2 linked regions of the Homo sapiens genome follow. The protein of the gene in region 1 purifies or fractionates together with the protein of each later gene. This does not show direct contact. Each region holds a gene or a part of one and is shown in the gene's direction. Other genes may lie near its edges.

Region 1 (3,943 bases):
GTTGGTCTCGAACTCCTGACCTCAGGTGACCCACCCACCTCGGCCTCTCAAAGTGCTGGGATTACAGGCATGAGCCACCACACCCAGCCACAGTTTCCATATCCTGTGTTCCTCTTCCTGGAAGATTCTTCTTAGTGGTCTCAGCTTCCAAGTCCCATTCCTGAGCCAGCCACTCTTAGAACACCCGGTTCACAGGCCAGCAGGTCTTTACAGTCTAGCGTTTTCTCATTTACTGGTCGCTCTCCTGAACTCGTTCATGAAGCAGGCATAAGGTAGCCTTGGTCACTGCTGAATTTCCAGCACCCAATATGGAGCCTCAGTAACTATGTGTTGAATATCAAGGTGGCCCATGGAGACTGTGGGTGGAAGAAGAACCCCAGGTGCGGTGGGCGGGAGATGAGGCTTTTGCTCGTTCCAAAGGCCAGGAAGGATTTAAGACAATGGATGGGGCCAAGAAAGGGCTATTTTTTTTTTTTTTTTAGAGAGACAGGGTTGGCCAGACGCAGTGGCTTATGCCTGTAATCCCAGCACTTTGGGAGACCGAGGCAGGTGAATCACACCTGAGGTCAGGAGTTCCAGACCAGCTTGTCCAACATGTCAAAATCCCATCTCTACTAATACAAAAAATTAGCCAGGTGTGGTGGTGGGCACCTGTAATCCCAACTACTTGTGAGGCTGAGGCAGGAGAATCACTTGAACCTGGGAGGCGGAGATTGCAGTAAGCCAAGATTGTGCCACTGCACTACAGCTTGGGTGACAGAGCAAGACTCCATCTCATAAAAAAAAAGACAGGGTCCACTCTGTAGCCCAGGCTGGACTGCAGTGGCACAATCATGGCTCACTGAAGCCTAAACCTCCTGGGCTCAAGTGATCTTCCTGCCTCAGCCTCCTCACTAGCTAGGATTACAGGCACATGCCACCATGCCCAGCTGATTTTGTATTATATGTAGAAACAGGGTCTCACTATGTTACCCAGGCTGGTCTCAAACTTCTGGCTTCAAGTGATTCTCTAGCCTCAGCCTCCCAAAATATTAGGATTACAGGCGTGAGCCAGCATGCCTAGCCCAAGAGGGGGCATTCTAAGTGAGATTGTTCTGTGCCAAGTTCCTCTGCCACTTTTAACATCAATTCCCAGTTCCCAGAGTGATTATGAAACCCGACTCTGCCATTTCCTTGTTGTGTGACCTTGGATACATTCCTTAACCTCTCCAAGCTTCATATCTTTCTCTGTAAAATGAAAATACTAGGCCGGGTGCGGTGGCTCACGCCTGTAATCCCAGCGCTTTGGGAGGCAGAGACAGGTGGATCACCTGAGGTCAGGAGTTCGAGACCAGCCTGGCCAATATGGTGAAACCCTGTCTCTGCTAAAAATACAAAAAAAAAAAAAAAAAAAATTAGCCAGGCTTAGTGGTGGGCGCCTGTAATCCCAGCTACTCAGGAGGCTGAGGCAGGAGAATCACTTGAACCCAGGAGGCAGAGGTTGCAGTGAGCTGAGATCGTGCCATTGCACTCCAGCCTGGGCGACATAGCAAGACTCCGTCTCAAGTAAATAAATAAATAAAATAAATCAGGTCATGTTGTTATTATTATTTTTGTCTTTTTATTTTTTGTAGAGACAAGGTCTCGCTATTTTGCCCACGCTGGCCTAGAGGTCCTGGGCTCAAGCGATCCTCTTTCCTCAGCCTCCCAAAGTGCCAGGATTACAGGTGTGAGGCACTGCGCCCAGCCTGGCTGCTATGATGATTAGGAATAACTCTGAAGTCTATGAAGGGTGCAGCCCCTCCAGCCTAGGGGTGGGGGATATTTGCAGACATGGACTTTCTTTGAACAGATAGGGAAACTGAGGCACAGAGAATGGAAGTGTCTTCCCAGAGGTCACAGAGCACCTTGGCAGCAGAGCTGGGACCAGAGATCAGGGGAATGACCTCCTTCCACATCTCTGTGAAGAACTAAAGTCAGATGGGGGTTATGGGCAGGGAGTGAGCCCTTTAAATCCTAAGCTCCACCTTTACTTAGAAGAGTCTCTGGGCGTTATAAAAGGGGATGCAGCTCCCTTCTGCTCTGGGAAACGCCTGCTGCTCTTGCCCTTGCCCACGGGCCCCCAGCCCCAGCCCCTCTCCTGTGGCCCACCACCCCTGCTTTGGTGCCATGCAGCTGCCACCCTTCGACATGTGGAAGGACTACTTCAACCTGAGCCAGGTGGTGTGGGCGCTGATCGCAAGTCGGGGTCAAAGGCTGGAGACCCAAGAGATTGAGGAGCCAAGTCCCGGGCCTCCGCTGGGGCAGGATCAGGGGCTGGGGGCGCCAGGGGCCAACGGGGGCCTGGGGACCCTGTGCAACTTCTGCAAGCACAACGGGGAGTCCCGCCACGTCTACTCCTCACACCAGCTGAAGACACCGGATGGCGTGGTGGTGTGTCCCATCCTGAGGCACTACGTGTGTCCCGTGTGCGGGGCCACCGGTGACCAGGCCCATACGCTCAAGTACTGCCCGCTTAACGGTGGCCAGCAGTCCCTCTACCGCCGCAGCGGGCGCAACTCGGCCGGACGCAGGGTCAAGCGCTGAGCATCGTGAGATGCTCACCACCCGCACCCCTGACCCTCCTGGTCCATCCCACCCAAGTCCCTAAACTCTCTCTTCCAGTCACCCAGCCCTTTGGAATTTCTGGCCCCCAGAACTCCACCCTGGCTGGATCCTGAAACAGTGGAGGCTGCTGGGAGCCAGGCCAGCCCCGCCCCCTTGGACCTGTCAGCCCTCGGAGCTCTGGCCTGTGGGCGTTGGCCTGAGGGTCCTTGGTGCCGCGGGAACCCTTCCTGCACGGCCCTGTAGCGCCCTCTGGGCCCCGGTTCATGGATCTTTTGTCCTCGTGGGGCCTGCTGGTGACTGGAGCCCTGCCCCTTCGACTTCTCTGTTCCTTGTGGAGTTCTTGGATTTTTGAACCTCCAGGATTCCACGGTGCTGTCCCAAGCCAGCCCTTAGGAGATACTGAACAAGGCTGGCTGAGAAGTGCCTACTCAAGAACTTCAAGATGGGATGTCGACTTAAGACCAGCCTTCTCCATCTTCAGCCTCCTGCAGAACCACGGTGTCATCGTGGACCACGCCTGTTCATTCCTTCCCTGACCTCAGTACCCATCCGTCAGGAGCGGAGTAGGACTCTGGAGAGCACCGTATCACTGGAGGGCACCGTGTCTTCGCAGGCTCACCTGTGGATGGAGAGCCGTGGGGTGAGCTGACACCTTTCAATGCCCCCTGGTTGTTCTTCCCCTTGTTCAGCCCATTGCACCCGGTACCTGCCCCCATCCCCAAATCACCGATGGGTCCTTTCCCCCAGCGAGAAGCATATCTCTCGACCACCTCCCGTCCGACCCCCCAAATCGTGATAGTTGACTAAAGGACATTTTTTTTTCCTCCTGTGTTTTTCAACCTCCAACGTTCAAGTCAAGGAACCGCCGATAAGAAGGGGGTTTGAGTACCCGGATGGGAATGGCAATGGCCTAGCTTTTATTTTAGGGGCAAAGAGAAGAAGGGCCCCCGTCAGATTTTAAGTTGTTCAGTTTTTGGCACAGGGTCGGGACCCTGAGTATTGAGCTCTGGTGAATAAAAAGGTTTTCTAGTCGTCTTTGAAATGGCTGTATCTGTTTCCGTCTTTGGTTTGTTTGTGAGACAAGGTCTTGCTCTGTCGCCCAGGCTGGAGTGCAGTGGTGCGATCTTGGCTCACTGCCCGGATTCAAGTGATTATCCTCCCTCAGCCTCTTGAATAGCTGGGACTACAGGTGCGCCCCACCACGCCTGGCTAATTTTTTTTTTTTTTTTTGAGACGGAGTTTTGCTGTTGTCGCCCAGGCTGGAGTGCAATGACGCGATCTCGGCCCACTGCAACCTCTGCCTCTCGGGTTCAAGCGATTCTCCTGCCTCTCAGCCTCCGGAGTAGCTGGGATTATA
Region 2 (3,600 bases), on another chromosome or scaffold:
GAGACCAGCCTGGCCAACATGGTGAAACCCTGTCTCTACTAAAAATAAAAAATTAGCTGGGCATGGTGGCAGGCACCTGTAGTCCCAGCTACTGGGGAGGCTGAGGCAGGAGAATTGCTGGAACCCAGGAGGCAGAGGTTGCAGTGAGCTGAGAGCACTCCACTGCACTCCAGCTTGGGTGACAGAGCAAGATTCTGTCTCAAAACAAACAAACAAACAAAAAACAATGTTATCAATAGTAAGATAGCCTGAAAGTTCAGATGTGTTTCTGTCTAGTTCTCTGAGTAAATTATTTTATTTACACTCATAGATAATGACATTGCTGCTGACAAAAACCAAAATTATCTAAAAGCACCAATACATTCATAGGAATACTTGGTTACTATAATTTTCCTTACAAATGGATACCAGGAGCCCCTCTATATATTTTACCCTTACCAGGGATTCTCATAGTCAAAAATTTCAGAAACCAAACTGTTGGGAAGCAGGATAGTGCTATACATATTCTGGGTAGAGCTAACTTGGCTGAATCAGAGATCTGGATTTTGGGAACAGGCTAACCTGGTGAAAATCCCTGCTCCACTTCCAGGCTGTGCTTTTAAGGAATTTGGACATACTCCTTATCTTTCAGTACTTTGCTTTCCTTACCTAAAAGGAGGATAACATTCCTTCAAGGCTGTAAATAGAGTGCTGTGTGTAAAGCACTCGGCACAACGCGTTTGTGTGGGGGAGACACAGTATGTGCATAAGAATTGGTAGATGATGATGGTGATGTTTATGAAAATCCAATCATGAATAGCCGGAGGCCACTGTTGTCAACGAGTGATCCCTGTAACAGCGACGTTAGCTACACTGAGAACTTACACATGCACATTCTCAGGCCCATTGCAGACCTCCTGAAACGAGAACTCGGGAGGCAGGGCCAGGCAATTGGCACTTTGCCTGAAGCACTCACGTTTTGAGAACACCTGTCAGGTAACAGGGAACCACTGAAAGTTTTTGGACGGTGGAGGAATGCGATATAAATGACTGTTGATTCACTGGCATTAAAGTGCCTAACTACCGACTGGCTTCCGAGGTTGCCGGAAGAAACCTGTTGGTTGATCCTTAGTGATCTCCAGGTTACAAAATGCGGGTTGGTACTAAGGGCCCCAAACACAGTGCTCACCTACCGAGCGCAGCCAGGAGCGCAGCGCCAGACAATTACAGGAGCTGTTTTGGATATGGCCGGGCAGCCCAGCGATGCTCAGCGAATCCCACAACTACAACCACAACCGTACCACACATTTAGCCTGCAAAAGCAGAGAAAGGAAAAGAAAACCGTGCAGGGAAGCCGGAAACGAGGGACTTAAGGGTCTCCTCTCTAGGGTGTGGGAGAGTGGGGGATGGGGCGAATGGGGCGAGGAGGGGGCGAGGATCGAGGGAGGCCCCTCCTCCGCTCGGCAACACCGGGTTCGGGTCCCTCTAGAGCCGGGACGCGGCCGGCGGGACACACCCTTGCCCTGGGAGACGCGAGGGTCCATGGCCTCTTAGTGTCGGTCCAGCTCAGTTTCGTGTCATTTGTTGTTAGCGCGAGGTAGGGGCGTTTCCCCACCCCAGCTCCTCCCCGGGGAAATCCCAGCCCGCTTCCTCCCCGCTCCTGCAGTTTTCGGGAGCGCCGTGCGGGGTCGAGCGCGGAGGCCGCACCCTGGGCGCCGGGCGTCGTGTCGGGACCGCTGCCCGCGCTGCCCGCCGGCGCGGCCATTGTTCGAGCCCCACCCCTGATGAATATTCACGCCGCGCGGGCGCCTCGGCCCGCGCCCTACCCGGCAGGGCTCGGGGTGTGAGTGCGTTTCCGCCGGTTTTTCCTGCCTGAGGAGGAAAGGGGGAGCTGTTTTCTCTCTCCTCAGAATATATTTTTGGTGTCCCGTTTCTCCTCCTCCAGCGCCGCCGCCGCCCCCTCCCTCCCCACCTCGCTCCCCGCCTCCGCCTCCGCCTCCCGGGTTATCTTTGTCTCGCTGCCTCGCGCTCACTCGCTCAACTCGGCGCCGCCGCGGCCCCACGCTCCGGGCCCGTCCTCGAGGCGCGCGGCGCGGGGCGCGGGCGCCGGGGCCTGAGGCGGCGGGCGACGCCCGGGGGCCTGACGGCCGGCCCCGCGCCATGGTGTGAGCGCCGCCGCCCGTGCACGCTCCGTCCGCCCTCCGCGCGGCCCGGCCGGCAGAGAGCCCCGAGCGGCCCGAGAGCGCAGCCGAGCCCGCCGCCGCCGCCCGCGGCCCCGCGAGGAGAGTACCGGGCCGGCTCGGCTGCCGCGCGAGGAGCGCGGTCGGCGGCCTGGTCTGCGGCTGAGATACACAGAGCGACAGAGACATTTATTGTTATTTGTTTTTTGGTGGCAAAAAGGGAAAATGGCGAACGACTCCCCTGCAAAAAGTCTGGTGGACATCGACCTCTCCTCCCTGCGGGTGAGTGGGCCCGCGAGCGGGCGCGCGGGGAGCGGGCAGCCGGCAGCCGGCAGCCGGGGCCGCGCCCAGGTCGGCCGGGCGCTCGGGCGCCGCCGTGGGCAGAGCCGCGGGGCGCGGCGGCCCCTTTGTCTTCCTGTGCGGGCTGGTGCGGGGCGGGCGCTACCCTCTACCGCCCCCACGCCCCGAGCCCGCCGCGCGACCCCCGGGCGCTGGGGGACCGCGCGGGGCGAAGCCCACCTCTTTTGTCACCGCCTTTTCTCTCCAACTGCCTTGCTTGATTTATTCATTTTTTTGGCTTCTTTTAAATGATAACCCCTCCCCTCCTTCCTCTCCAGGATCCTGCTGGGATTTTTGAGCTGGTGGAAGTGGTTGGAAATGGCACCTATGGACAAGTCTATAAGGTCGGTGTGGGCGCCTTCTTTGTTTCCCGTGGCATGTGGAAACTTCTTATTGGGGGACGAGGAGAGGGTGATAAACATGCTGCTGACTGGAGGCCACGCCGCTTGGCCAAAGTTGGGAGAGGGGTTTCTTTCGCCTTGCAGTCCCTCTGTTTTTGCACACCGAGTTTATATTCAGACTGGCCTTAAAAGACCTCATTTCCTGGCTTTGAGATAAGGAAATAAGCTACACTCTTAGGCATGCACTTTACTTCGATAAAATGGAAAAGCATTTTTTAAAAATAAGACAACCTGAATTTTTTCTTTTTTTCCCCAAATCCGGCCTTCTGAGTTTGTGTGTAAATTGAAATACAGTGGAGGCGGGCCTTGCCTCTGACGATCCTAAACCACTGCTTTGGCCATCGTGAAAATTGTCATCATGTTTCAGCCTCCACTCAGTGCTTGCCAGTTGCTCAAGGTGGGGAGTTTGGCGTTACCTGGGAATACTTTATAACTGTGGTTGTCATCCTTTCTATTGATGGATACGTATTTTGGGGAAGCAGGGAGGAGTGTGTGTTTGGGCAACAGCAGCAGGAAGAATTACAGTGTGGGGATTATAAAATCTGAATTCCAGGAATAACCTGTTTGACAGCTGTGTAATTGAAACAGAAATGACAGAGAGCGAAGAGAATATAGAGGATGCCCTGGTTTACACCCACCCAGGTCTTTCTCTTTTTTCAAAATTTTAACACCCACCCTCCACCCCAGCGATAAATGAAACT

What was found. Proteins that work in one complex are often made in the same cells at the same time.
Region 2: the proteins of NANOS2 (region 1) and MAP4K4 purify together in Homo sapiens (affinity purification with mass spectrometry; 2 studies listed by BioGRID and IntAct, with this or other methods). This does not show direct contact.

What each region holds. Positions count from the first base shown.
Region 1 is NC_000019.10:45,912,899-45,916,841, reverse strand, and holds NANOS2 (nanos homolog 2), read left to right. Parts: upstream 1-2,063; 5' UTR 2,064-2,148; coding exon 2,149-2,565; 3' UTR 2,566-3,628; downstream 3,629-3,943. UniProt on the Homo sapiens protein: Plays a key role in the sexual differentiation of germ cells by promoting the male fate but suppressing the female fate. Represses the female fate pathways by suppressing meiosis, which in turn results in the promotion of the male fate.
Region 2 is NC_000002.12:101,695,697-101,699,296, forward strand, and holds the start of MAP4K4 (mitogen-activated protein kinase kinase kinase kinase 4), read left to right. Parts: upstream 1-2,010; 5' UTR 2,011-2,384; coding exon 2,385-2,441; intron 2,442-2,568; exon of another isoform or gene 2,569-2,746; coding exon of another isoform or gene 2,747-2,776; coding exon 2,777-2,842; intron 2,843-3,600.